Linked DNA regions of Homo sapiens: region 1 is linked to region 2. Evidence: fine-mapped expression QTL. Tissue or cell type: thyroid. Region 2 holds a variant in brackets; the other region holds the start of a gene. All regions are shown on one strand. Distances are from middle to middle.

Region 1 (15,390 bases), 34 kb before region 2:
GGCATGATAACTGCTCCTAATCACTTGATCCTGGTGTAGTTGACTTTCTCTGTAGTTAGCTCTGAACCTCCCTGGGTTCTAGCTGTTGTTGTCAGGAGATGTGCTGCCCCCGACCCAGCACCACGTGAGAAGTATAATCTGCAGAAGAAGACGTAACATAGATGGAATCCTCCTTCCGCCGCTCCTAACTGTGTCACTGTGCAGCCTGCACCATCTCTCTGGCCTCACAGAATTTTCTCTTTGGAAAAATAGGCCTCATGTGTCTCACACAGCTGTGGTGAGCTTCAATGAGGCAATTCAGGAAATCAGCTGACACCCGCCTCTTTTGTTCCATCTCCGTCTCTCAGCTCTCCTTGCACGCAGTGGTCCTGGCTTCCACACTGTCCTCTCTGACTCACATCTGCCCCCACCCCCTGCCCTTCTACACACCAGTTTTCTTAACATGGACAATTCAGCTGGCTTTTTTGTGACTTCCTTTGGGGTTCATGCGGTTGGAAAATATTGGTCTAGAACTTGCAGATCATGGGTTCAGAACTGCAAAAAACCACCAAGTACCCTATTTAAAAACATAGATTTCTGGATGCCACCCCTCCCAGAACCCAGGGGTCTGAATTCTCAGAAAGTTCTAAGGATTCTAAAGTACACTAAGGTGTGAGGGCCATGCAATCTTCCATAAGATGGTAAAACCCCATTTAGATCCTTGCCCCTAGGGAGGTCCATTTTATGTCGAAAATGCCTCATTAATGCTTTCTACCTTAGCCCTAGCTTTATCGTGAGGGAATCAGGTGTGGAAGAACTCACACTCTCAAGAGTCTCTTGTCCGTGATGGAATTTGCAGCTGGCCCCAGGAGTAGGCGTGCTCTAAATGAAAACTGTGCATTCAGGTCCTGGCCAATTTGATGACTAATCTCTGAATTGCTTGGGGGATGGAGATTACCCTGAGCCAAGAATATAGAAGGTCATAAGTCTCTGTGACCTGACGCTCTGAGTGTGGGGAAGCAGGGAAAGGAAGTGTTTTGCCCCAATTTAAACAAGACCTGCTTACAAAGCAGCAGCACCCATAAATCACTGGTTACAATTCGCCTGCACCCAGGGGCCACTTCTTGGTGCCGTGGCTCTGTGTCACTTTCACGGGGTACAGCCTCCATGCTAGCCCCAAGACTTAACCCTTTATATAGGTTATCTCTTGTAATGCCCCCAGCAACGCTATAAGGCAGATATTATCATTTTTCCTATGAACACAGATGAGAAAACTAGGCTCAAAGAGAAGAAAATTGCCAAGGTCACTTAGCTGGTGAGAGCCCAGACAGCCTCAACCCGGTGCTCTTTCTCTTAACCACACCACCACCTTTCATCTGCCGTCTCTTCTCTCCCTTAGTTTGGCTGAAATGTGGATATGGTCTCCCCACAAGTTCCCAATTCCCTGGTGGAAATTTACCAAAATGATGTCAGATAGACCTTATAAGCCTTAGCTGCCAATGCCCTGGGTCAGCTCACACTTGACCTCTCATTAAATACTGTCCATTGTAGCGAGATTGGAGACCTCACTCACCAGATTTCAGATATGCCTCCTGATGCAACAAAACTGACTTCAGACCTCTAACTCCTCACACCTCTTTAGGACCTTGCCCTCTGACAGGCAGCTCCAGTTGACAGGTGCAGGGAGGGCTGGAAGAATATGGCGACAGGGCAGCATTGAGACCCAAGTACAGCCATTTCATTTCCCTCTTGGCTCTTGGACTTCTCATGTCTGCATTTGAATGGAGGCCATCAGCCATTGCCAGTGGAGGCTGAGCTGAGGCTTCTAGGAGGAGCCCCAGCACCCACCAGACAGCAGGCAAGGCACAGGAGTGAGGCAGGGGCTCCCAGCCTGTTGGCAGAGTGGCAGAGCTCATGGAAGTCTTTATTGCCCTTTGTGAAACAGCCTTTTCTCAGCCCTCCTCAGGCTGGAGGTAGAGTCTTCACTGCAGTCAGAGCCATAAGCACATCACAGCAAAAATACTGCTTGGAGGCCGGGACTTCAGGGGGAAAGGTGAGACTCCAAAAGCTTTGATCTGGCTAAGCTCTTCAACTTGGTCTGGAAATAGGGAAAATTGTTTTGCACCTTTTGATAACTGTGAGAAGAAAGGAAATGTTCGCTTTACCTCCTGTTTGGTCTCAGTGACCTCTTTATTTCCTGAATCAAGTTCTCTTGAAGCCCAAGTACTTAACTTGAGTGCTTTTATTTTACAAGACTGAACGGTGTACTCCAACCACTGGAAAACATTCATCAAAGCCCAGAGCTAAGTTTCCAAACTATGGTGGGATATTGAAACCACTCTGGGAGACTTCTTCTTCCAGCCATGATAGAGTAACCAGACAACCGCTAGGAAACAATGATTTCCAGATATTGAACAACAAGCAATGCAGCACTATGACCCCTGAGAGGAGGAAAACAAGAGAGGTGAGTCCTACAATTGTCCCCACCTGGAGGCAGTGTCCAGGCTGCAGCTTAGGAGGGGAAACTCAGCTGAGCCTGGGGTCTTTGCTGAGTGGAGGAGGTAGAGACGGAAATTAGAGAGGCCAATGTAGCTGGAATTTAGGAAGAGGAGAACTGCAAAGGAGAATTCCAGCAGCCTGCAGGGAACTTCCCAGGTCTTTGCCTGAATACTGATCTGCACCTGCCCAAGAGAAAAATACCTGAAACCAAGAAAAGAACTTCCAGAAAGTGGTAGGTCACATCATTCAGGAGCTATTTGGAAGCAATTTAGGTTCCCGCCAGCCCAGGTACAAACACCTTGTCACACATGAGACATCAGGTAGAGTCCTCAGAAGGGTCATGTTGTAACACTGGGACTAAATTAGCCCACATCAGGGTTTCTAGGCCTCAACACCATGGACATTTTCAGCTAGGTAGTTCTTTGTTGCGGGGTTGAAGGTGGCACTGCCCTGTGCATTGTAGAATATTAGCTGCATCTCTGGCCTCTACCCATTAGCCACCAGTAGCATTTTCCCCAAGGTTGTCACAACCAAACTGTCTGCAGACATTACCAAATATCCCCAGGGTATTTCAACAAGCCCAAACAAATCGAAAAAATAAGCCTCAAAAGGGTCAAGCTGTTTTCAAATAACTTAACAAAATCAAACACCAAACAATGTAAGATTCACAATATCCAAAATTCAATTTTAAAATTACCTAGTGTGCAAAGAAGCATGACCCATAATCAGGAGGAAAATCAATCACTAGAAATGATGCAGAAATAACAGATGCTGATAAAATGAGGAGACAAGGACCTTAAAGCAGCTCAAGAAGGTAGAGGAAAGCATGAGCACGAGGAGGGGTGTGGGAGATGAAAGGAGTCACCTGGTAAGTGTTCTTCCTTGTTTGTCATTGCCAATGCCTTCACGCTGCTCTGGGCCCACTGAGTCACAATGGCCATGGCTGCACCAGAGGCATATGCAGTTCTTTAAAAAGTTCACTATGAGGCCAGGCACGGTGGCTCACACCTGTAATCCCAGCACTTTGGGAGATCAAGGCGGGCGGATCATGAGGTCAGGAGTTCGAGACCAGCCTGGCCAATATGGTAAAACCCCATCTCTACTAAAAGTACAAAAAAAATTAGCCGGGCATGGTGGCGGGTGCTTGTAATCCCAGCTACTCAGGAGGCTGAGGCAGGAGAATCATTTGAACCCGGGAGGCGGAGGTTGCAGTGAGCCAAGATCGTGCCACTGCACTCCAGCCTGGGCGACAGAGTGAGACCCTGTCTCAAAAAAAAAAAAGTTCACTATGATTCTACTCAGCCAGAATTCAGCACTACTGGCTAAACCCAATTTTTTTTTGTTTGTTTTGTTTTGTTTTGCTTTGGAAACAGAGTGTTGCTCTGTCGCCCAGGCTGGAGTGCAGTGGCACAATCTCGGCTCATTGCAAGCTCTGCCTCCCAGATTCATGCCATTCTCCTGCCTCAGCCTCCCGAGTAGCTGGGACTACAGGCACCTGCCACCACACCCAGCTAATTTTTTGTATTTTTAGTAGACACAGGGTTTCACTGTGTTAGCCAGGATGGTCTTGATCTCCTGACCTCGTGATCCACCCACCTCAGCCTCCCAAAGTGCTGGGATTACAGGCGTGAGCCACCACACCCAGCTGACTAAACCCAATTTTTTAAAAGAATGAATAGAAAAAGGAGATGGAAATGATGATGGAGATTTTGAAAAATATCAGGAGGCATGGCCAAATAGTGATTTCCAAATACAAAATCTTTCTTTGGCTCATTTAGTGATTAAAGGCATTAGAAACTGTCGCCTGTCAGAGGACAGATGGGTGAGCCTTAGCTGATGCATCTCAGCCTGCACCTACCATCAGAAAGGTCTCCACAATCAATCAGGAGATGCTCACTTACATTCACACCATAGGAGATATGAGCACATCACTGAATTCTATGAGGTTTCCCTTCCCAAGCTGGCAAAACCACGCAAGCTCTGCTGCATAGAGAGTCTCAGAAAGTGTCCCTGCTTGCCATGCGGACAGAAGGCAGAGCTCCAATATAGGCTCATCCCATCCTCCAGTTATGGCTACATTGATGTCTGAAATTCATCAAAAACATACGCAGGGGGAGACATGCCCTTAACAAACTGTATTTCTCAGAGTTTGGGGCATTTTTAGAGTGTGCAGACATCAAGTCTTTGAAAATATGAACCCAGGGACCTTCAGCACCCCTCACCACCACCTGCTCCCAATCCTGGTAACTTTCAGTGCAGCAGGCTCTGCTCCTTGTTCCTATCAGAAGGAAGTCTATGTAAAGGTATGCGTGTGGCTGGATCATCCCTGGGCTGCAGTTCAGCTGGTGAGAGGTGGCTTCTCCAACCATTAAGACAGCTCAGGACTAAGACCATGGTTTTGGAAAAATTTGAGTCTGTAGGTTTTACACTAAAATCAAGCAGATTTGCAGGACCTCATGGGAAGAACTTGAAATCCATAAGGTTTTTACAGAAATAAAATCTCCAAAACTCACTTTTGCCAGATAACCAGCCAGTTTCTTTAATCTAGCACCTTTGTGCATTGAGAGTTCATCCCAGAGACCCTGCTCATTTGTCAGCCCATTGAGTACTTTGTGGTCAAAGCCCAGGGCAGGTTAACCAATGGCCTTGGAGCTGATAGAAGAGAAGGAGTCACTGGGCCAAGTCCAAAGGCAGAACCCAGAAGTGCTAATTGGGGTCTCTCAGCAGTTCAGCTTGGGAAATTGAGCAAGGAAGTTTCCTTCTTCCTAAATTTCCTAATCTAAATAATGCTGAGATGTCATGGTAGGAATAACATGAAGAATAGTTTAATGGATGAGGAATATTTTAAAATCGGAAATGTTTGCTACCAAAAGTCAAGAGCAGACCTTGAAGTTCAGAGGGACAGGGGGTGCAAATCCCATCTGATGGTTTTCAAACTTGGCCCGCCCTAGAGCTGAGGAGGCAGGCCCTTCCTGGACAACTTGGGGAGTCATGGACACAGTGAGGCCCATCCAGCCCATCAGACTGATTGTGGGTGGGGGCTTGGATCTGGCATTCATTTTAACATTAGTGGCTCGGTTGTTGGCTGTCAATAGTAGCAGCGTATTGGGCCCTGAAAAAAATGTAGCTGTGACTGTCATATATTTGAAGTTTTTTGTAACCTCCTAAAAAGGTGTACTTTTTTCATATTGTTTTAATCAGTGTGGCTATAGGAATCAGTGAAGTTTTATATACGAAGAAAACGAGAATGCCAGATCTACCATTTGCTACATAGGGTTTAAAATGAAGCTATGAACAATGCATAATAATGTAATTCAACAAGTTTTTCTCTCTCTGGAGGACTGGAAAATAACCTCAGTGAAAATTATGCAATGATAAAATTCTGTCCCCATCTGATTAATTACTTGTGAATAATGACATCTCTGATTTCTTTCAATTATATTCTAATTGCACACCTTTTGCTCCAGTTGATTGGGCAATGAAGTAATGAACAACTATTACTGAATTTAATTAGCACCATTATTTCTGTGGCCTTTACATCTCTGTTGTGAACATGGAAATTCACACTCCCAGGGCTGGAACTGGAAGAAGCCAGCCTTGAACCTTGAAAAACCTGTTCCTTCCACACTGTGCTGGCTTCCTTCTGCCCAGCCTGGGGAACAAAGACCTGGCGTATTTGCCAGTATTCATGGGAAGGCTTTCCTAATAACAGCATCAATATTCAGAAAGGTTACCTTTTCATAAGGCATTAGCAATTTGCATGTTACATCTATCAAAAGAGATGGGTAAATGAGCTATATGGGAGTCAATTACAATGTCGTTCATAATTTATTCCATGTACAATAAACAGCCGATCAGATTTCATGCGTGTTTACTTTCTGAAAAGATAACTGCTTGTGGCTGATACTAGTTGCAGAATACAAATATGTTTCAGAGTAATGTGTTTATCTCACTTTGACATTTTAAATCTCCAAAGTTCTCTCACTCTCTGTCTTTTTTTTTTTTTTTACAAAGTTGTCTCTGCTTGAAAATTAGAGCTTGCTCTCAAAAATAAAAGATCATTCTTACTGGCCTAACTTGAATCATTCTATTTTAACTCGATGAAGGCACGTCATACATATTCTCCTACAAAACGCAACAGGAAACAAGTAGGAATTTGCTTTTAAAGACAGGTGATTGCAAACATACAGAGCTAAGAATATTTAACTCACAGAAACATGCTGTAGTTTCTAAACATGGATACAAATTACCCAACTCAGTAGTCTTTGGAGCACCAATAAAGTTTGTAAATGCAGACATGTGTCATCGTAAATTAACTTCATCCGATATACTTTCCCCCTCCCCCATATTTCAAAAACTAAAATAAATTCAGAAATGAAGAAGGCTTTTCCAAATCCCTTAGGGAAGTCTACAAACACAAATGATTAATTTATTAGACCAGATAAAACACCTGAACTGTCTGATGAGCAACACGTCCATCTCTCTCTGAGTCAAGCGTGTACCCACTCACCCACCCAGGCTCAGCCATACCTCATATCTGCTGGCTGTCTGCTCAGCCGTCTTCAAGCCTTGACACATATGGATGATACAAACTTTGGCTCTTCTCTGGGAGGGAAACCAGTTACTCTTCACAAAATCCATGACCATCACATGGTTTTTCAACTCTGTACTAAATGTTTTTATCTGGAAAGTCCGATGCACGGCCGTTTCTGTGTAGCGGGCAGCATACCCCTGCGGATGAGTTTTTGTAGGAATTCCAGAGTGCTGCATGAGACTCAGTATCTTGTGACTTTAGCTAGTGAGACTGGCAAACACAATTTTCTTTGTTTAACCCAGGTATTGAGTGCAACAGGAGGGACTTGGGCAGTGCCCCAGCTCGGACCTGTCCCAGTGTTTTCCAACTCCAGAGCTAGTTGTCTCAATATCCCAGCTACATTTGTGAAGGATGTGGATGTGGGAACCTCAGGGGTGACCTTTACGTGCCAAAAAAAAAAAAAAAAAAAAAAAAACTTCTTGTTGTGGTCTGTTTCCAGCCTCACGCCTGAGCTCTCGGGTCACTCAAAGTCTTCTCTGATTTCAAAGAAGTATTTCTCTTTCCACTGCATTGAAGTTTTGAACACAGAATTCACCCAGTTACTGAGAGATTCAATATGTTTGTCAGTCTCTACCCCCTCAAATCCAAATAAATTATTTACAGGGCTCTGTACAAAGGAACTAGGAGGAATAATCGTTGCTTTTTAGAATTCCTGCTTTTACTTGCCAGGACTGAAAGGAACAAGTGCAGGCTGCCTACCAATACAAAGAGCGTCCTCAGCCCTGGAGAAGAAAACATTCAAGTGAAAAAGAGAACTCCCAGCGCAGAAGCAGCAACAGCTGCAAGAGGGCATCGGAAAAACAGCGCATCACGTGGGGGCTGGGGGTGGAGTCCACTCGCCTAGAAGGGGGCTCTGGTCCTGGGTCAACCATGGGAAGTTCCCTCACCACCCTGAGTCTCAGTTTACCAGGAGGAAGACTGGAAGGAAAATACCCCATCTGCCACTCACAGGGTTATTGTTAGGATCTGGTGAGCAAAACAGTGAAACAACAACACAGAATAGAGTCACGTTAGGCATCATTTTGAAAGTACAGTTGCGCGTTCTCTACCCAAATTATTTTGCACAGTGTTCGCTACACATATGATAACGGAGATTAACACAATGCTAATAATTATCAGATTCTAAATTTCAAGTCAATTAGAATTGCAGATCCATGGTATATGCCTCACTTTATTTAATGTTTTGATGCCATTTCTATTAACCTAGTAATTTAGAAGTGAAAATGGCAAGCCTTGGATCAAGGGTGTGTGCCAAGAGGAAGCAGATGACAGCATCGTGGCTGTGCTCCAAGTCCAGACACAGAACTCTTCTCCACAGGTGACTTTCTCTTGGCAGAGACACCCCCTTGAATAATTAACTCACCTGCCCCACATTGAAAGCCATGGGAGAGGCTAAAGGAAGAAGAGCCTCCAGATAACTTTCCTGAAAACAGAGCTGCAGTCCTAGCCCAGAACTGTGAGACTTCCTGCTGTGGGTCGAAGCTTTGCATGTCACACTCAGCAGGGCTAGGACTTGGGGGCTAAAATGCTGAACTTCCACCTTCGGAGCAATGGAAGTATTGAAGATGGGAACTACAATGAAGGAGGAGACAGAAAAGACTTTAGAGATCATTTAGGCCAACATTCTCATTTGAGTGTTAAAGTAGAAGACCTACAGAGACTAAATGCTGGCTCAAGATCACACAGTGAAGTGGAGTTCATGGTTCCTTAAACAGAACACAGCCCGGGTCTGCCTGGGGCTCTCCCAAGGATGTCAAAGAGAGTGTCAACACCCAACTGATGGCATCCATGGCTGACTCAAACCTGACAGTCATGCTGGAAACTCCCAGGGAGCTACACCATGGAGCGCCATCTTGGATTTGGAAGCAATGTGATAAAGAAAGCCATGGGAGACATTTGAGCAATAAAAACATGAAAATTGAACAGGGACACCAAGGAAAGAGGGGATCTGCTTCATGTTTGGGCACAGGGAAGGTCATTCCCTGTGTCCCCAAAAACGCCATTTAAACCAGCTCCCATTTGTGTCTATCTGCTCCTGTCCAGGAGACCCCGCAAGGCAGATAACAAATAATAAAGTCTTTTCTTCCACCACTACACACATTAAAGGACCTTGGACAATGCTGAGGCCAGCAGGACTGGTCATCAGCTACCCCGAGACCAGGACTGGTCATCAGCTACCCCGAGACCAGGACTGGTCATCAGCTACCCCGAGACCAGGACTGGTCATCAGCTACCCCGAGACCAGGACTGGTCATCAGCTACCCCGAGACCAGGACTGGTCATCAGCTACCCCGAGACCAGGACTGGTCATCAGCTACCCCGAGACCAGGACTGGTCATCAGCTACCCCGAGACCAGGACTGGTCATCAGCTACCCCGAGACCAGGACTGGTCATCAGCTACCCCGAGACCAGGACTGGTCATCAGCTACCCCGAGACCAGGACTGGTCATCAGCTACCCCGAGACCAGGACTGGTCATCAGCTACCCCGAGAACAGGACTGGTCATCAGCTACCCCGAGACCAGGACTGGTCATCAGCTACCCCGAGACCAGGACTGGTCATCAGCTACCCCGAGACCAGGACTGGTCATCAGCTACTCCGAGACCAGCATGGAGAGGTTTGCTGATGGTTGGCTGACTGCTAGTGTGAGCACTTGTCACAAGCACAGCCAGCCTGTGGTGATTATGGAGATTCCAAAGATCATTAAGGCTATGGGTGAGTTTTCTCTCTCCCTTGACCACAGCTGGTGGCTGGATCTTAACTGGCCAGTATGGCCAACAAGAGGAAGCAGTAATGTGGCCTTAGGCAGGTCTCTGGGATTCTTGGTCAATAGGGATGGACAGAAGACTTGGGATTGTCAGATTGAATTCCTCATTATATGGAGGAGAAAATTGAGGCCCAGAGGGAGAGAACCTTGACTGAGAGGTCCAAGGGCTGGAAAGAGCACTGGATGGACAATTGGAGATGGGTTTGCACCTAGGCCCTAAGACAAACTAGCAGGTGATTGTGGACAAGACTCCTCCCTTCTGGCTTAAGTTCCCTTTAACCACAAGCCCCCTAGCTTCTCTGACACCCCTGGGTTCTAGAGTGTGTCAATTTTGACCATGTGCAGACACAGCTCAGCAGAGAGCAGTTCCACCCTCCCTGGGAAAGGCCTTCCTGTCTGGGTCACTGAGGTGGGGCTGGGTGCAGAAGAATGAGCTGATGTCCTTCCATCTGCCCTCAGAACTGTTGCTCCTCACCCTCCAGCAGGGCCACAACCTCCACAGTCCAGCCACTGTGCCCTCTTGAAGCACAGCCTCCAAGTAAGAAAACGTGGTTCCTGCTGATGTTCACAGTGCTTGCCTTGCAGCCTTGGGCGAACTACACACTACCCTTGCTTCAGTTTCCCCATCCATTTAAGAGGATAACAATAGTGCCTTCTTTGATGGGCTGCTGTGGAGACTGAAGCAGCTGGCACTAGTAAAGGGCTTGGGACAGAGCCTGGCACCGGGCACCTGCCTGACAGACACCAGCTGTCATCACTCCCAAAGGGCAAAGACTCTAAATTGCCAGACACATCATTTTAATACCAAAGAAGGAAGATTGTTAAGGAGAAGCTGGAACTCAACTGGCCATCCTAAGACCCTATCTCCAAGACTTCCTCTGCCATGTAATGCTGCCCAGAACTGGGGCAGGTGGCCAGCCTTGATCTCCTCAAATGGGAAATAGAGTTAGCATCCCCGGAGCAGACAGCTGTGAACATTGCGTTAGGTGGTTGTTGTGTGTGAAACTGTTTTATAAAGTATATATTTTTAAAACTATACAAGTATAGATTTTTAATGCTAGATGCTAGCAAAAACAACTGAAGGAAGAAGTGCCAGACACAAGCACAAACTAAGCTAGTTCTCATCCAAAGGACAGAAAGTCAGTCACATTTACAGTCACAAAAGAATGGTGGTATTAGGCACCACCATGCCACCACATTCACACATATTGCCAAGGACACTGAACGCTTTTTGGTTTGCCAAGAGTCCCGCTCTTCTGGGAACTCTTCCTCCACATCCATCCCGAAGCCTCCCATATGGTGCCCATAGAAGCTGGCCATGCCTCTGACCTCACTGACTGACCATTGACTGGCCCAGGGGTGGGCACCTGGCCCAAATAGGGCCAATCAGAGCCTTTTGTTTTGATCTAAATATTTGGGTATCCTCCAATTCATATGAAGAAGCCCTAACTCCTAATGTGATGGTGCTTGATCATGGGGCCTTTGGAAAGTAATGAGGGTTAAATTAGGTCATGAGGGTAGACCCTCATGATAAGACTAGTGGCCTCATGAGAAGAGGAACAGAGATCTCTTTCTCTCCCCCACCCCCTCCTCATGAGCATAGAGGAGAGGACATATGGGGACACAGTGAGAGGGTGGCTGATTGCAAGCCAGAAGGAGAGCTCTCATGGGGACCTAGTCCAGCTGACACCCTGATCTCAGATTTCCAGCTCGAAAAACTGCGAAAGAATACATGTCTGCTTTTTAAGCCTCCCAGTCTATGGTATTTTGTCGTGGCAGCCTGAGCTGACTAAGACTCTTGGAGAAACACCTGGCTCACATAAGGCCAATCAGAAAAAGTCTGTTCTGGAGAATCTTGATCCTGGAACTGAGCAAGAGTGGGTAGCTGAGGCTGTGGGCTGGAACACTGCAAGCACTTCTGGCAAGGAGCTGTCACAGAGAGAGGCAGAAGCCAGAAATGGGAGCATGTGGATAGTTCTTGAACCCTGGGTTCTACCCGGCCCACATTCTGCATGTGGAATCAATGTGACTATAGTATCTTTACAATACTCTCCCCTTTAGGCTTAAGCTGTTTGACTTAGGTCCTGTTATTTGCAACCAACAGAGTTTATGTTAATCTTTGAAAATTCATTCATTTATCAAAGAAGCAGAGGTGAAGTGCTTCTGAGCCAGTTACTGTGCAAGGCACTGATGATACAGAGATGAAAGGGAGTTCACTGTTCAGCAATGGGACGGATGCCTTGACAAGCAGTTACTCAAAGCACAATGAATGTTTCCTATGAGAGCATCTGCGTGGTGAGGACACTAAGAAACCTTCATGGGAGAAGGGGTATGGCATCAAGTCTTGACTGATGGCTGCTTTACTGCTGAACCCCCCACAGTTAGCATTGCATGGACAAAAGTCAGCCATAGGACATCACTTTCTACATACTGTTCATACATTTTGTCATAAAGCATTCACAGCCAAGAATGGAAAAGCACTAACTGAAGCCATATTTACTGCAAATAATCAGCACTGTTTATGGAAAATGATTTCCTGAATCTTTTGTGGTTTTTTTCTTAAAGGAAATAACTCAGTCAACTACTATAAAAGTTAGATCTCTGACCTTATTAATGTCCTGCAGAATATCCTATTTAATTTCCCTAAATTGGTCCCTGGGGTGACTAAAACTGTTAACATTGTTAGCAATTGCAATCCAATGATATCAAATCAACATAAATGAGCCTCAAATGTGTTTAGTGTTGAACTATATGGGATATTAATCTCTTACCTCTCCCTTGCCCCTGAGACAATATGCAGGGCTGTATACAATATGCACTGAAGTATTTAAATAATGAATTATTCAAAAAGAAAAGAAACTGCAGGTACCTGATGCCAAAAATCATGCCTGTGAATTCTTAATCTGTTCTCCAATGGGATTAGCATTTAGGACTATGAAAGATATCCTAATTATGCAGAATTTCGGAGTTGATTTTCTGAAGGGCCTGTGCAGATCTAAAAAGCATTAGGCAACAATAAAAACAGATGACTATGAATTTCTGAATTCATAATTTAGTTTCCCTTACGGGAGAAATGACATTTTTATTTATGGGCGCTTTACTCATCAGGTGGGTGCTGAAGTTTTTCTCCTTTCTCCAAGGCACAATGCTTGCTGCAAGCGCATCCATGCAATCATCCTTCTAAAACAGATGTGTGAAATTTACAGGGCTGTGTAACATAGGACCGATGCAATGTATTTTTCCTCTTGTTAGTCCCCACCCGCCGGGTTGCTAGAATAAAACAAAAGAACTGAGAATAATATGGCCAACTAAGGAATCTTTGACCTTTTAATCAAATTAGGAAGAGGATGCAAGTTTGCTTGATGAATTCCATTCCCTTGTTAAATTTTTCAGCTACGAGGGGGAGGAGCCAAGATGGCCGAATAGGAACAGCTCCGGTCTACAGCTCCCAGCCTGAGCGACGCAGAAGACGGGTGATTTCTGCATTTCCATCTGAGGTACCGGGTTCATCTCACTAGGGAGTGCCAGACAGTGGGTGCAGGTAAGTGGGTGCGCGCACCATGCCCGAGCTGAAGCAGGGCGAGGCATTGCCTCACTCAGGAAGCGCAAGGGGTCAGGGAGTTCCCTTTCCTAATCAAAGAAAGGGGTGACGGACAGCACCTGGAGAATCAGGTCACTCCCACCCGAATACTGCGCTTTTCCAACGGGCTTAAAAAACGGAGCACCACGAGATTATATCCCGCACCTGGCTCAGAGGGTCCTACCCCACGGAGTCTCGCTGATTGCTAGCACAGCAGTCTGAGATCAAACTGCAAGGCAGGGGCGCCCACCATTGCCTAGGCTTGCTTAGGTAAACAAAGCAGCGAGGAAGTTCGAACTGGGTGGAGCCCACCACAGCTCAAGGAGGCCTGCCTGCCTCTGTAGGCTCCACCTCTGGGGGCAGGGCACAGACAAACAAGAAGACAGCAGTAACCTCTGCAGACTTAAATGTCCCGGTCTGACAGCTTTGAAGAGAGCAGTGGTTCTCCCAGTACGCAGCTGGAGATCTGAGAACGGGCAGACTGCCTCCTCACGTGGGTCCCTGACCCCTGACCCCCGAGCAGCCTAACTGGGAGGCACCCCCCAGCAGGGGCACACTGACACCTCACACTGCAGGGTACTCCAACAGCTGAGGGTCCTGTCTGTTAGAAGGAAAACTAACAAACAGAAAGGACATCCACACCAAAAAACCATCTGTACATCACCATCATCAAAGACCAAAAGTAGATAAAACCACAAAGATGGGGAAAAAACAGAACAGAAAAACTGGAAACTCTAAAAATCAGAGCGCCTCTCCTCCTCCAAAGGAATGCAGCTCCTCACCAGCAACGGAACAAAGCTGGATGGAGAATGACTTTGACGAGCTGAGAGAAGAAGGCTTCAGACGATCAAATTACTCTGAGCTACGGGAGGACATTCAAACCAAAGGCAAAGAAGTTGAAAACTTTGAAAAAAATTTAGAAGAATGTATAACTAGAATAACCAATACAGAGAAGTGCTTAAAGGAGCTGATGGAGCTGAAAACCAAGGCTCGAGAATTATGTGAAGATTGCAGAAGCCTCAGGAGCCAATGCGATCAACTGGAAGAAAGGGTATCAGCAATGGAAGATGAAATGAATGAAATGAAGCGAGAAGGAAAGTTTAGAGAAAAAAGAATAAAAAGAAACGAGCAAAGCCTCCAAGAAATATGGGACAATGTGAAAAGACCAAATCTACATCTGATTGGTGTACCTGAAAGTGATGGAGAGAATAGAACCAAGTTGGAAAACACTCTGCAGGATATTATCCAGGAGAATTTCCCCAATCTAGCAAGGCAGGCCAACGTTCAGATTCAGGAAATACAGAGAACGCCACAAAGATACTCCTCGAGAAGAGCAACTCCAAGACACATAATTGTCAGATTCACCAAAGTTGAAATGAAGGAAAAAATGTTAAGGGCAGCCAGAGAGAAAGGTCGGGTTACCCTCAAAGGGAAGCCCATCAGACTAATAGCGGATCTCTGGGCAGAAACCCTACAAGCCAGAAGAGAGTGGGGGCCAATATTCAACATTCTTAAAGAAAAGAATTTTCAACCCAGAGTTTCATATCCAGCCAAACTAAGCTTCATAAGTGAAGGAGAAATAAAATACTTTACAGACAAGCAAATGCTGAGAGATTTTGTCACCACCAGGCCTGCCCTAAAAGAGCTCCTGAAGGAAGCGCTAAACATGGAAAGGAACAACCGGTACCAGCCGCTGCAAAATCATGCCAAAACGTAACGACCATCGAGACTAGGAAGAAACTGCATTGACTAACGAGCAAAATAACCAGCTAACATCATAATGACAGGATCAAATTCACACATAACACTATTAACTTTAAATGTAAAGGGACTAAATGCTCCAATTAAAAGACACAGACTGGCAAACTGCATAAAGAGTCAAGACCCATCAGTGTGCTGTATTCAGGAAACCCATCTCACGGGCAGAGACACACATAGGCTCAAAATAAAAGGATGGAGGAAGATCTACC
Region 2 (15,390 bases):
AGGGCAAGTCTCTCCCGTGCTGTTTTCATGATACTGAATAAGTCTCACGAGATCTGATGGTTTTAAAAAAAGGAGTTCCCCTGCAAGTTATCTCTCATTTTCTGGCTGCCGCCATCCAAGTATCATGTGACTTGCTACTCCTTACTTTCTGCCATGATTGTGAGGCTTCCGCAGCCACGTGGAACTGTAAGTCCAATTACACCTCTTTCTTTTGTAAATTGCTCAGTCTTGGGTATGTCTTTATCTGCAGCATGAAAATGGACTAACAAAAAGAGGATCACTTTAGTCCAGGAGTTTGAAGCTGCAGTGAGCCATGATTGCACCACTGCACAACAGTCAGGGTGACAGAGTGAGACCCTGTCTAAATAAAAAATATTCCCCTTCCTTCTCCTGAGGATCAAAGAATAAGTGTGGACCCAGTAGCTAATCTCAAGAAGCTTACAGCCTAATGGAAGATTAAACAAGTACATCTTAGTCAGGATTCCTCAGGTTACAAATGACAGAAACCCACGTAAACCAGGCTGGACAAAGAGAGGAACCCATTGGCTCAAGGAATCCAAGGATAGTTTAAAGATTCAATCTGACAAAAATGCAAGAACTCATCAAGGAATCAGAACCAACTGGGTTCTCCATCCAGACTCTTCCTCTGCATACACCAGTGAGGTTTAATTTATTACTAATAAAATGGGAGGATAATGTCTACCTTAGACGTCTGGGGTAAAGATTACATTTTAAACACCTCGAGGAAGTGCTGAGAATCATGCAAGGAAGGAGCTCAATAAATGTCTCTATTTTCTCTTATAGATGTTCCACAGTACTTGTAAAACACTGAGCACCAAAATGCAGCAAATCCCAGGAACAAAGAATTTGTTACCGCATATACTTTAGGTAGGATGAAATGGAAAATGGAAAACTGAAGAAAAGGGGGAAAACAGAGATAAAGAAACTTTTGAGTAATTAGGGAGAATCTTCCAGGCATCTTCCAGTCCAACAGAGATATTCTTTCTTCAAAAACCAAAGCGGTATATTCAATTTCTCCCCATCCCAGGAAAGTTGCAGGAAATTATCTTGAAGAAAGTGTTATCAAAAAGGAAACCACACTTCCTAAATTTCCAACAGTTGCACAATAGCTAAAGTATTAAAATGGAATATGTAGAGCTAGAAAAATAGGAATACATTTATAATGCCTATGGATCTGAGTTAGAAAACTTTTATAGATTCAAGAATGAATTTGGAACCACTTAACTGAGAACTCTCTGGAATTAGCATATAAAAAATAAGCAAGTATTCTGAAATCAAGAAGCATGGACTGAAGCTGATTAGTACATTAGGAGTAGAAAAACTCATGAAGATTAACGTGGATGCAAAAGGGCCCAGAACAAAACTGCCTCCACCATCCACAGCTAAGGATTCACCAGTAACCTGATAAAGAAAGATCTGAAGGAAATAATGTGAAATGATGAAAAACACATTTTTTAAACTGTCAAAGGTGCTAATTAGAATATTTTTTTAAAAACTGAAATGTCTAAATGAAAACATGTAATATAAACTTGTACACACAGAGAAAGCTGTTTAAATGGAGTATGCTAAAATAATAACAATGGTCTGTTTGTAGGGTGGCACTATAGACAACTTGCTCTTCATTTCTTTTCTGTAATGAATATGCATTACTCTTCATTAAAAAAGATTTTAGGAATAGACAGTTCTCAAAAGAAGATATACAAATGGCCAACAAACATATGAAAAAATGCTCAACATCACTAGTGATCAGGGAAATGCAAATCAAAACCACGATACAATACCACCTTTCTCCTGCAAGGATGGCCATAATCAAAAAAATCAAAAAACAGCAGATGTTGGTGTGGATGCGGTGATCAGGGAACACTTCTACACTGCTGGTGGAATGTAAACTAGTACAGCCACTATGGAAAACAGTGTGGAGATTCCTTAGAGAATTAAAAGTAGAACTACCATTTGATCCAGCAATCCCATCACTGGGTATCTACCCTGAGGAAAAGAAGTCATTATACAAGAAAGGAACTTGCACACGCATGTTTATAGCAGCACAGTTCGCAATTGCAAAATCATAGAACCAACCCAAATGTCCATCAATTAATGAGTGGATAAAGGAACTGTTGTATATATATACAACGGAATACTACTCAGCCATAAAAAGGAATGAATTAACGGCATTTGCAGCAACCTGGATGAGACTGGAGACTATTAATGTTAGTGAAGTAACTCAAGAATTGGAAACCAAACACCACATGTTCTCACTGATATGTGGGAGCTAAGCTATGAGGATGCAAAGGTATAAGAATGATACAATGGACTTGGGGACTTGGGGGGAAGAGTGGGAGGGGGTGAGGGAAAAAAGACTACAAATAGGGTGCAGGGTATACTGCTCGGGTGATGGGTGCACCAAAATCTCACAAATCACCACTAAAGAACTTAGCTGGGCGCAGTGGCTCAGGCCTGTAATCCCACCACTTTGGGAGGCCAAGGCGGGTGGATCACCTGAGGTCAGGAGCTCGAGACCAGCCTGGCCAACATGGTGAAACCCCATCTCTATAAAAATACAAAAAATTAGCTGGGTATGGTGGTAGACACCTGTAACCCCAGCTACTTGGGAGTCTGAGGCAGGAGAATCGCTTGAACCTGGGGAGGTTGCAGTGAGCTGAGATTGCACCATTGCTCTCCAGCCTGGGTGACAAGAGCGAAACTCTGTCTCAACAACAACAACAACAACAAAAAGAAAAGAACTTAGTCATGTAACCAAATACAACCTACCACCTGTACCTCAATAATCTATGGAAAAAAATAAAAAAATAAAAAAGTTATAAGGGAGGTAGTCAAAAAAATAAAAAATAAAAATAAAATAAAGTTATAAGAGAGCTAGTCAAAAATAAAAGAAAATAAAAAGAAAAAGGAATACAGTATAAGTAATGGGATGTCACTTCTAATAGTAGGTTACAAAAAGACTTCCATCTTGAATTTTTTCTTGCTTTCTTGCTTTGAGGGAAGCCAGATGCCACATTGTGAGCTACCTTTTGGAGAGGTCCATGTGGCAAGGAACTGAGGGAGTCCTGTGATCAACAGCCAGCAAGAAACTGGACCCTAGTAACAGCCACATGAATGAGTGTGGAAAAGGACACTCACCCATCCAAGGCTTTGGATGAAAACCCTAACCTTTGCTGATAGCTTGACTAAAACTTTAAGAGATAATTTGAGCCAGAGAAAACCCAACTAAGGGCCAGGCATGGTGGCTCATGCCTATAATCCCAGCACTTTGGGAGACCAAGGTGGATGAATCACCTGAGGTCAGGAGTTTGAGACCAGCCTGGCCAACATTGTGAAACCCCATCTCTACTAAAAATACAAAAATTAGCCCGATGTGGTGGCATGTGCCTGTAATTCCAGCTACTCGGGAGGCAGAGACAGGAGAATTGCTTGAACCTGGGAGGCAGAGGTTGCAGTGAGCCGAGATCACACCACTGGACTCTAGCCTGGGTGACAGAGTGAGACTCCGTCTCAAAAGAAAAAAAAAAAAAAACCAACTAAGCTGTGCCCAGATTCTTGACCCAAAGAAACTATAAGATAATAAATGTTTGCTATTTTAAGTTGCTAAAAAAACAAAACAAAACAAAAACTACTTTAGGAAAATGTTTTAAAATTACTTCTGTCATTGCTAAGACAGGGACATGGAAAATCAGACTGAAGTTTCAAAAAAAGTACCCAGAACATAAATTTGAAGGCACAACATTCTAACTAACACCTACTGGGTGTTCCAGTGGCCAGGCACAGTGTAGAGAGAGGGCTTAGTGTAGAGGACCAGCACATTTCATCTTCACAACGACCCCACAGGTTGATGCTATGGCTCCCCCCTATGCTATAAAAGGATAAAGTGAGGCACAGAAAAGGGAGTGATGTGCTCAGGGTCACCCACCTGGGTAGAGGCACAGCCAGGACGTGGACTCAAGTCCATCTGACCTGGGAGAACACACCCTCTAAACCTCTACTGGGGCAACTCACTCCATCAAAGCCCATCGGTTCACATGAGATGTTCCATTAAAACTATTGCAAAAAATCATTCATTCAATTCTCATGAGAGTCCTGGGGCAGGTACAGAAGCTATGTCTCAAAGAAGTCAGGCTACTAGACCACACTCACACAGCTGGTAGGGGTATAGCACTCATGTAGCCCTCCTCTTTCTACACTGTGGCCACAACACTCATCACCAGGAGAGCTGGCATTCCAACTGTGCTCTTCCCACCCAGGATCAGGACTTTTGTTCAGGAAATTCAATAGCACATTCAACAACTCTCCACAAAGCACTGCCCCGGGGGCTGATCACCAGGGATCCAAAGACAGAGCTTTGTCAATGTTCCTCTTTCAAGGGGCACACATTCTGTTGGGTTACACACATAAGGCACACACAGTCATAAGGTGATATGACAATGATTGTGATGATGGCAGCTGTAAGATTTACATGTTTTCCATGGAAGACCCAGGAGAGTGCCCAAGAGGTCCAGACAATAAGAAAAGAAGCCTGTTAGACTCTGTTGCAAGCCAGCAACAAAGATTGATTCTCTTGTTGAATTGAAGACAGTACCCCAAGCGTCTGTAAACAGAACACAAGGAAGAGATTCAGCTAAACATGGAATCCAGAGGTGCATTCTTCCTTGCTCCACCTCCCATCCTCCCCTGTAATCCGGTTAGCACCCTGTTAATCTTAGCTTTGTTCATTGGTAAGTGCATTTTAGCCTATGGGATATGCATGCATAATGCTATGCAGAGCACAAGCATGGGAGCCAACCTTCTTTCTGATGTTTAGACTCCTCATTCCTGACCTCATGCTCTAGAAGGGCCAAATGCAGCTGTTCCTCAGTGGTACTGAGTCAGATCTGTGGTTAGCCCACAGGATGCTGATCCAGATGGGTAGAGAGGAAAGAACAAGGACACCGGGAGCTGGGCTCCTGATTTCAATTCTGTTCGTGACTGGGTTATCTGCCCTCCCTATACCTTTTACTCCCTTTTCCAAAATAAGTGGTCTTGAATATTGGACTCACTAATTTTATAATTGGAATTAGTCTTAGAGCTGGCTGCCTCCTATATTGAATGCAAGAGAAAACCAAAATATAAAAGAGTCAAGCAAAATACTCAAAGCCACATAGGGAATTAGGGATACCCTTTCTATTAATTCTAAGTGGACACTGTCTGGGTGTAAAGGATCCCATTCTAGGGATTACTTCCAGGACGAGAAGCAGAAATGGGTTGAGGAGCCATGGCTTCACCTGCAGCTCAGGGAAACCTGGTCACTGGGGGGCCCAGAGGTCAAAGACGTATACTTCTCCTTCCCTGCTCTGCCCTCACCACCCTTGTTGTGATTGGCCCCTTTCCCCTGCACATCTCTAGCCAAGTTTCCTGCAGTAAATTCAAGCAAGGAAATGCTGATTTCTGGCTTGAAGGAATAAGGGAAGATTGTGTAGTCTGCAAAGCTAAAAGTGACTCCGCCAACCAGAAATCAGGTCTCAGCAATGTCATCTGTTGTATGGAACAGAACAATGAAAGCCTCAGTTTCTTTTCAGTGAAATAGGACTAATGTTTGCCTTATTCACCTTAGAGAGTAGCCTGTTAAATAGAAACTTATTCTGACACTTGACAAAAAGATAAGGAAGACTTTATTCAAGACCACTGCAACAGAAGTCATCTCTATGCAATAGGGAAGAGAGTGGGCTCAACTTCAAATATAAGGACAAAGGGGCTTGACAGACAAGAAGCAGGGTAAAGGGTGGGGAAGCATGGGGTTCAGTGGATGGAAAATTACTCAGAAGAATATCAAGGATCAGGGGGTTCTTGCTAAACTCACCTAGCAGGATTCTTGTTAAAGGCAGGCCAAGGACTTAGACCTCAAAGTTGGGTGATGAGAAACTTGATCAGATATCAAGGGTAGTGAGAGCCTTACTAAGGCTGGGCTGGGCAGGTAAAGGACAGGACAGGGGCTAAGCTCAAGGCCTGGTCAGAAGGAGAGGTCAGAGAGCCCAATCAAAGTTTGGCCAAGGAGAGAGTCTTCGTCAAGCCACAGGAATCAGCTGAGACTCTCACTGTAACATGCATGCTAGGAAACTGTAAAGAACAATTCTTATAACTTTGCTATATATATCTTACAGTCATTTGCTATGAGGATTATTTAGAAATAATTTGTGTTTAATAGCTGGTTAAAATACAGTTGGTATTCCAAGTGTAATCAAACCAAACACACAAGATACAAACCCTGGAAGCTCTGAGAAAGGAAGGATTTCACAAGCCAATAATGTTATGACCATCTGATTAACTGCTTTTAGCCATCATCACAGCTAACAGCCAGGTAGTCAGGGACCACTGGGAAGCTGGTCCTATCTAGGCATCTGAGTGATGAGCCCAGCCAGTCACTGGCAAGACCCTTGGGATGAGTCCCACTTCACAGCTGGGGAGGTGGCTCAGGGTTCAGCCCACACAGAGCTGTGTTAATCAATCCTGTACTTCCAGCCTGAGGAAGAACAAAAGGAGGAATAACTCAGAGAAGAACTTTCTCATCCTGTATCAATGTCTTCCTGCTCATTTTAAAGACTGCTGTTTAATAACTGCCAAGAATTTAGGAGGTGATTTTGAATTCTTTCACAGATTTGAGAACATCACTAAGAAAACAGATCACCTGGACCAGATGCAATGCTGCATTTAATGCACTTTTATTCATCCAGGAAGCTTTGAAATGTGCCCAGCAATACAGCAGCAGATGAATTTAAAAGGTCCAGAACCCAGAACCCAGAGAAGCAAACTAAATCTGAGCAAGGGCAGTCATTGGTCAGGGGTAGGCACTAGGCTCTGCAAGTGTGCCGATGGGGTCATCGGTCCAATACACCACCACGCAGACCACACAGGTGTGAACCAATGGAGCCCTTGGCCATTCTTCCACCTGGCACATTGGACGCAGATCTGCTCAATAAGCCATGTGCTTTCCTCACTGTGCAACTTCTCCCTTTAGACTTCTCAAACATGGATGCCTGGTAGAAACAGAACTGCCTGTTATCGTATCTTTGGGAAATTCAAAATTACTAAAGATTACAGATGCATTAACACCATAACGCAAACCACTCACACAAAAATAGGAGGTAAAAGATAAAGTTTTGTTCTAAATGAAGCCCCTCCTTATTCCCCAAACCCAAGGAAAAATTTCTC[G/A]CCCAAGCATGTGATATGCTGCCAGTCTTCTTCTGAGCACGTTCAGTTTATCGTGTCCTGGGGTTATTTCTGTGCTTGCCTCACCCGCCCACTCTACCACTTTTCTTTCAGGGCCCATGGAGCCCTTCTGAGCCAATCAAGACTTAGGTTCTGCTGGCTCTGGATGCAGCCTCAGAATCCTCAATCACTTACCCAGGCAGACACAGCCAGTGAGCCAGAACTGGCACAGAAAGAACTCAATCTGTTGCCATCCCGAGTCTAGACAAGGAGGCAGGGAAAGCCTCGTACTGACTTTGTTTTTATCCCCCTTGGGGCCACAGGAAACGGTCTCAACACTATTCATTTGCCTGCCTTTGCCTTAAGTTCTCACCTGCATTCAAATAAATAAATAAATAAATAAATAAATAAGCCAAATCTTCTTATCAAAAGCAAATAGAGCTTGGGAATGCTCTAATCCAAATGTCCTAATCTTTCTGAGAAGAGAGCATACAGCCAGATCCGGAGGGGCCACCTACCCCGCTTCCCCCTTGCTCACTTTATTCCTGCAGGACACGAGAGCTGCTCTCTCCAGAGGGTAAGGGAGGAGGTGCCAGCCAGCTTCTCCAACAGGTCAGTGTGGTCACCTTTTGGGAAACCCTTGACAGAATTCCACCTTCACAGATATCTAATCCTATAGAGCTATGGTTCCCCCAAAGATTTTGGATGTGAACAGTGGGGGCTCTTGTTTATCCTCCAGAGTGAACCCACCAGGGGTTTTCAAAGCAGAGCCTCAGCAGTACCGGATGCCACCTCACTTCTGTAAGGAGGAAGGATGTGGGGAAGCCCCGGACCATATAATGGGTATGAATTCCTACTGGGAAATGCTTTTTCTTCTAGATGTAAAATATCCAAAAGAGACTGTGATCCTCCTCTAATAGACATCCATGAAATAACCTGTGCGATCTATTGAAAGCATGTTCTCTGTACTGAACTTACAGGTGGAGGCTGGCGGCTCTTGGTCTAATAGAATCAGAATCATCTGGAGGGCAAGGATGGGAACAAAAGAGGCTTACGCTTTTTGAAATAGTTTTGAGCACTGAAGAGTTGATTCCATTAAACCGCTGAGTCTAATAAAAGGAAACTCCCTTCAAAAAGAGGCAACACAAGTATTTATATGAAAGGGGAAAAAATACATCCCTCAGGAACTAAGCAATAAACACATGTAAAAATGTGATAAGGAGACATTAAAAAATCACTGTGTTACACTCAGCTAGTTTCAATGACTTTAGTACTACACAAACAGGAACAAATCCGTGGATCAAGAACAAACCCCAGGCTGCCAGTGCACTTTCCAACTAGCAAAGCCAGAGTGCTGTCTCAAGAGGCAGTGTCTGGAGCCTGAGAATCCAAGTCCACTCAGTGTGTTGAGATGGCCTGGCTGTCCTTCACAGTCAGAGGTCACCTGGTTCCAGTGGTTTAGCAGGGCAGAGTGCCCAGGAGCTGCCAGCCCTGATGCCAGAAGTGGGGAGCTGCTGTGACCAGATACAAGGTCAAACAGGCAGTGATGCAGAGTAGGAGCAAGATTGGGTTTAGAAACCAGAACCTGGGGACCGCTGTGAGGGCAGAGCCAGCAGGGCCAGCAGGCAGGAGGCCAGAGAAGCAAAGAAGCTTGCCAGCCAGGCCACTGTACCTGCTGGGGTGGTATTTGGTTATGGCAGGATCTTTCCAGAGGCATGCTCCACCCCACCCTACCCTCAGACCCACTGCCTCTGTTCTTGAAGACACCTGACTCCACACCCAGGACCTGCAAGGGGTCATAGAGAGGAGGACCTGCCAGCTGCCTCTCTATGTGGGGTGGGAGCAGCTGACACAGGGACCGCTCTGAGGAGGAGCACGGAGGCCCACAGCCAGTCCAGACACCCACTGATCCAGGGGCAGTGAGAGCAAGTTGGTGCGACCACAACCTCTGTCACCTGAGGCCAGTGGTTTACAACTGGACACAATTTTGCCACCCCTTTTCCCCACCCCCCATTTGACAATGTCTGGAGGGATATATGGTTGTCACAACTTGGAGGCACAATGGGCCTCTGGTGGCTACAGGCCAGGATGCAGCTAATACCTTACAATGCACTGTATGGCCCCCACCACAAATAATATCCGGCCCTACACATCAATAGTGCTGACACTGACGAAGCCTGCCTTACACCAACCAGTAGGTCATGAAATGTTTCAGATGCAAAATGGTGCTGCACTTCACACATAGTGAGGACATTGCTGGAAGCCTCTGCCTTCCTAGAATTTCTTCTTTGATTTCCAGATATCCCGTAAAGCTGTGCGAATGTCCCGATTCTCAATCATACTGTGAAAAAAGTGATCTGGAGGGTCTCGAGACCCGGCTGACTGCTTCTATTTCACCCACCAGACTGTTTCCATACACGTGGGGGGAGATACCCCGAAGAAAACCAATTTAGGAGAAATGAATATGAATTATTCACTCCCCTTACAATGAAAAAAAGAAAGCTGCAACTTGACTAAACAGGGGCCGTTACCCTTTGAAAGATATCTTCCCTTTTGTCTGATTCAAAGTAGCCATTTTTCATGTAAAATATAAGCTAACCGGGGAAATTACATTTCTACTCTTTTATAATACAGATTAGAAAGATGAAGAGAAATCTGCCATAAACAATAGAAAAAGCCATTATTCAGATGAAGAGCAGCCTGCAGGAGGCCAGTTTGCTGGAGATGCAAGACCTGTAAGCAGCAAGTGGCTCAAGAGCAATAATTCTCAGGCTGGGCTACACATTAGAATCACCTGAAAAGCTTTAGAAGCACCTGCCAAAGCTCAGGCCACACCCCTGAATAATTATATTAAGATAAAGACCGGGTTCTCAATAGCTTGCATCAGAATCCCTGGCTGGCTTGTCACAGCTCAGCCGGCTGGCCCACCCCAGGGTCTCCACTCTGTAGGTGAGGGTGGAGCCTAATAAGTTGCATTTCTCTCTCTCTCTTTTTTTTTCCTTTTTTTTTTTTTTTTGAGACGGAGTCTCGCTCTGTCACCCAGGCTGGAGTGCAGCGATGCAATCTTGGCTCACTGCAACTTCACCTCCTGGATTCAAGCAATTCTTCTGCCTCAGCCTCCTGAGTAGTTGGGACTATAGGCACGTACCACCATGCCCAGCTAATTTTTGTATTTTTAGTAGAGACAGGGTTTCACCGTGTTGGCCAGGCTAGTCTCAAACTCCTGACCTCCGGTGATCCACCCACCTAAAGTGCTAGGATCATAGGCGTGAGCCACCGTGCCCGGCCATAAGTTGCATTTCTAAAAGTTCTCTGGTGCCTCTTGTGCTGCTGGTCTGGAAACCTCACTTTGAGACCCACTGCTCTCGGGGAGAGATCCAGGTATTACAGGAAAGGGGTCCCGATCCAGACCCCAAGAGAGAGTTCTTGGATCTCACACAATAAAGAATTCAGGGCGAGTCCACAGAGTAAAGTGAAAGCAAGTTTATTAGGAAAGTAAAGGAATAAAAGAATAGCTACTCCATGGAGCAGCCCCGAGGGCTGCTGGTTGTCCATTTTTATGATTATTTCTTAATGATATGTTAAACCAGGGGTGGATAATTCATGTCTCCTTTTTTAGATGATATGGGGTCACTTCCTGATGTTGCCATGGCATTTGTAAACCGTCATGGCGCTGGTGGGGAGGGTAGCAGAGGATGACCAGAGGTCACTCTCATTGCCATCTCGGTTTTGGTGGGTTTTAGCCAGCTTCTTTGCTGCAACCTGTTTTATCAGCGACGTCTTTATGACCTGTATCTTGTGCAAACACTTATCTCATCCAGTGACTTAGAATGCCTTAACCATCTGGGAATGCAGCCCAGTAGGCCTCAGTTCATTTTACCTAGCTCCTATTTAAGATGGAGTTGTCTGGTTTACATGCCTCCTCAGGAAGATGGATTTGAGGTTTCCTCCTGTCTCCTTGTTTGGTGGTCCTATGATTTGTGAAAAAAAATACATTTGGGGCCCCAAAATCACTCAGCTAAAGGGAAGAGTCAAGCTGAGAACTGCTTAGGGCAAACCTGCCTCCCATTCTATTCAAAGTCACCCCTCTCTCACTGAAATAAATGTATATCTGATGGCCTCCTTTGGAGAGGCTAATCAGAAACTCGAAAGAATGCAGACATTTGTCTCTTACCTACCTATGACCTGGAAGCCCCCTCTCCACTTCCAGTCATCCTGCTTCCAGTCATCCTGCCTTTCCAGACAGAACCAATGTTCATCTTGCGTATGATGACTGATGTCTCACGTCTCCCTAAAATGTGTAAAACAAAACTATGCTCTGACCTCCTTGGGCACATGTCATCAGGCCCTTCTAAGGCTGTGTCACAGGTATGCGTCCTCAACCTTGGCAAAATAAACTTTCCAAATTAACGGAGACCAGTCTCAGATATTCGGGGTTCACAGATAAACCTGTTTCTCTGCTGCAACCCAGTGTCTTGGTGTATTGCCTTGCTCTGTATATTGGGCAATGGTACTTGTTATTGTTACAAAGTAACATCACGCATAAGGTGAGGTGACTGATAGCAATAGCACTGGGGGCAGCACTAGGGCAAATGTTTGAAGTTTAGTGGTAAGATGCTCGTTTATTAGGAAAAAGGACTAGTGATCTATGACTCTGATAATATTGAAGAGGTGTTACAGAAGTGGCACAATGTGTGAAATACAGATATAATGCAAAGATCTAGGCATTCCTGACCAGGTGCACTTGCTGAACCTCAGTTTACCCAGCTACAAAATTGTTGACTGAGATCTCTTTCAAGGTCCTTTCCACTCTCATCTTCAACAATACATGTGTATATTGAGATGTTAAAATAATCGACTTTTTTGAAAGCAAGCCATGCTTGTTTTAAACACATTGGGAAATTCAAAGGGACATCAGTAGTTATCTTTAAATGATATTACCAATGATACAAGTTTCTTCTTTATTCTGTCATATAATTTTGCAAATTTTGCAAAAAGTGATATGTAGTATTTTTATAAATCAGAAAAAATTAACTACAGCAAACACACATACAAATACAGAAATATCAGTGTCCAAGATACACAGAAACAAATCATGTGAGAAGGCCACAGATGATTTGGGATTGCTAATGAAGTTCTTCTCCAAGTGATATCCCAAATTGATAAAACGTGTAAATATCAATGCCTGAAGGCTCAATAAGATGCTAAAAGAAATGAGTTTATTCTATTTTCTAGAATACAAAATTGGTTTTTCTCTTGCCTTGAAGTCTGAAATCATGCTGTGTTCTATCTTTCCCACCAGCACTTTTAGCAGGCTGTGGATGTGACTGAACTCAAAGCACACGACACTACAAGTTTTTTTTTTTTTGAGACGGAGTCTCGCTCTGTTGCCCAGGCTGGAGCACAGTGGTGTGATCTCGGCTCACTGCAAGCTCCGCCTCCCGGGTTCACGCTATTCTCCCGCCTCAGCCTCCCGAGTAGCTGGGACTACAGGCGCCCACCACCACGCCCGGCTATTTTTTTTTTGTATTTTTAGTAGAGACGGGGTTTCACCGTGTTAGCCAGGATGGTCTCGATCTCCTGACCTCGTGATCCGCCTGCCTTGGCCTCCCAAAGTGCTGGGATTACAGGTGTGAGCCACCGTGCCCGGCCAACACTACAATTTAAATACGGTGTTTTGGAGTAAAATAAAAACTAAGCAGAGACTACCTTGTCTGGCCATGACAGAGTAACTGGTGTCAGATGTACCTCCTTGCTATAAATAGGTGTTATGGACTAAACGTTTGTGTCCCAACCTCAAAACTCATAGCCTTAATCGCTAATGTGATGGTATTTGGAGATGAGACCTTTGGGAGGTGATTAGCATTAGATGAGTTTCTGAGGGTGGGGCCCTGATGGATAGGATAAGTGCCCTTAGAAGAACAGATACCACAGGGCTTGCTTCCCTCCACACACATACACAAACAAGAGGTCACCACCTACAAGTCAAGAAAAGAGGCTGAAAAATAAAACCTATCTTGCTAATATCTTGATCTTAGACTTTCTAGCTTCCAGAGCTGCAAGAAATAAAATTATATTGTTTAAGCCATGCCATTTACAGTATTTTGTTATAGCAGTTTTGTTACAGACTAAGATAACAGCTAGCCACGACACTGAGCAAAATGTATGTGGCAACTGTTTTGAGACAGTAGACAAGAGGCAATGCAGGAGAGTAACCCATGAGAGACAAGAAACATACCAGGTAAGCTGCACATTTTCTAGGAGCAATTTCCAGAGTTCAATATGGGAAGTGAAGTCCAAACCCTGCAGGGCTAAGAAGTTTGGGGTTGCCAAGACAATTGGAAGTTGTGGGGAACATGCAAGGAGAGAGGAAGTGGGAGCTCGCCTCTGGTTCTTTAGCAACAGCTGGACTCAGCATACACAGAATAAGCCTGCGAAATTTAGCAAAGAGCTAGGAGATGAACAAGATGCTGTAGGTTACACAGAGCCAGGCATCTAACAATCGGAAAAAAGGTCACAGACAGGGAAAGGGGCAAAATCAGGGTGTACCCCATGGTGCTAGATTGGAATTGGAGTGGTCATTATGCACTGATGCATATACGCATGTATTCATGTATGTGTGTGTGTGTGCACGCATGTGTGTCTATGCACAAATACACATATATACACACACAGAATATCTATAAAAATAAACATATTGGCATACATATGTGCTCGAAGTATATGTATTTGTATGTTTATGTATATGCATGCATGCATTTCTTAGCTCTGTCCACTGAGAAGATCTAGAATCAGTGACACACCAGTAGCAACGAGCATATCTGCTGTTTAGATTTTGGCTTCTAAATACCATTCTTCACTAAAAAGAACAAAGAATCCTAGGCTGATCTCAGGGATGGGACAAGTAAAATACAAATAAGACTGTGGCATCATATTGTACCAGAAAGCAAGAAATTGCTCAAAGAATGATGGGGACATATCAAGAGGACATAGGAGCCACACAGAGCTTTCAGTGACTAAGTCTGTGACAATTTGAGCACCAAAATTTATAATATTAGTAATGGTTAGTAACTCATCAAATAAAATAAGAATACATGAGTCCGTAAACAAGTAGATGAATACATACAGTAAGCAAGGAAAAAAAGAAAAGCTTTTCCCTTCTGCCAAGTGCCAACTAATAAATATAAAGGCCTTAGGGGGGTTAGAAAATCATCAATGAGTGCTAAAACTAGTGGATAAAAGTTGCAGGTGGTACAGGATATTTACATAGTCTCAAGGTATCTCCCTTTACATTGCCTATTAATTTCAAAGGAAAATGGTAAGTTTACATAGAGAAAGTTGGCAGATTCTACCTTTGCCAAGTGATCAAACTTAACGTCGCACATATTGAGACAAACAAATATCACATGCCTTCTGATATTATGTGCTATGAAAGACAGAGTACTGTTTCTTGTGTATTTCTGCTAAAACTGCTGAATCTGAATATGAACGTGGGAAAACATCAAACAAACCTCAACTGAGAAAGTCCATAAAATAACTTGAAAATATCTAAGGTCAAGGAAATGATAAAAAGGACAAGAGACTGCTTCAGATTAAGGGAGACTAAAGAGACATGAAAACTGAATGCAAGAGTGGTCCAGAACTGGGTCCAGGCCTTGGGGAAAAAACTACAAAGGACATTGAAGGAATGATAAATATGGACTGTGGTTTAGATAATAGTATTATATCAATGGCAAGTGTCCTGAATTTGTTAATAGTACTGTGATAATGTAAGAGAATGTCTTGCTCTTAGAAAATACACACTGAAGAATTTAGGGGTAAAAGGGAGTGATGTCTCCAACTTACTTTCATATGGCTCAGAAAAATATTGTTAATAGATAGGTAATGATAAATCAAATGAGAATAAAATGTAAACAATTGGTGAATCTGGGTAAGGAGGTATTGGATAATTTTTGTATCGTTTTCTTTTACTTTAAAGTCTGAAATTATTCAAACTAAAGAGTTACCAGAGAACTTGTCATCACTGGAAGGAACAAGAGCTTCCCTCAAAAACATGATTCAGACTGCCAGTCTCATCCTCTAAGCCATGAGTCCCTGACTCCCCAGCCACGGACCAGTACCAGTTTGTGGCCCATTAGGAACCAGGCCGCACAGCAGGAGGTGAGTGGTGGGTAA

Which allele goes with the higher level. Positions count from the first base shown, and alleles are read on the strand shown. Sizes are in standard deviations (SD) of each study's normalised expression.
In carriers of allele A in region 2, the expression in thyroid of the gene that starts at base 7,461 in region 1 tends to be higher than with G alone (large effect, 0.77 SD a copy in GTEx).

The links.
Region 1: C10orf90 starts here. The variant in region 2 is fine-mapped to the expression of C10orf90 in thyroid (GTEx, PIP above 0.99).

Annotation. Positions count from the first base shown.
Region 1 is chr10:126,663,233-126,678,622 of GRCh38, forward strand. C10orf90 (chromosome 10 open reading frame 90) reads right to left here and starts at 7,461. Exons shown (of 10, transcript NM_001350921.2): 1 at 7,009-7,461. The coding sequence starts at 7,248. RefSeq lists a silencer at 9,487-9,709 and an enhancer at 13,636-14,176.
Region 2 is chr10:126,697,480-126,712,869 of GRCh38, forward strand. No RefSeq gene overlaps it. Among named protein-coding and RNA genes, the nearest start is that of C10orf90, 34 kb to the left of the region's middle. The variant G/A (reference allele first, on the strand shown) is at 7,219.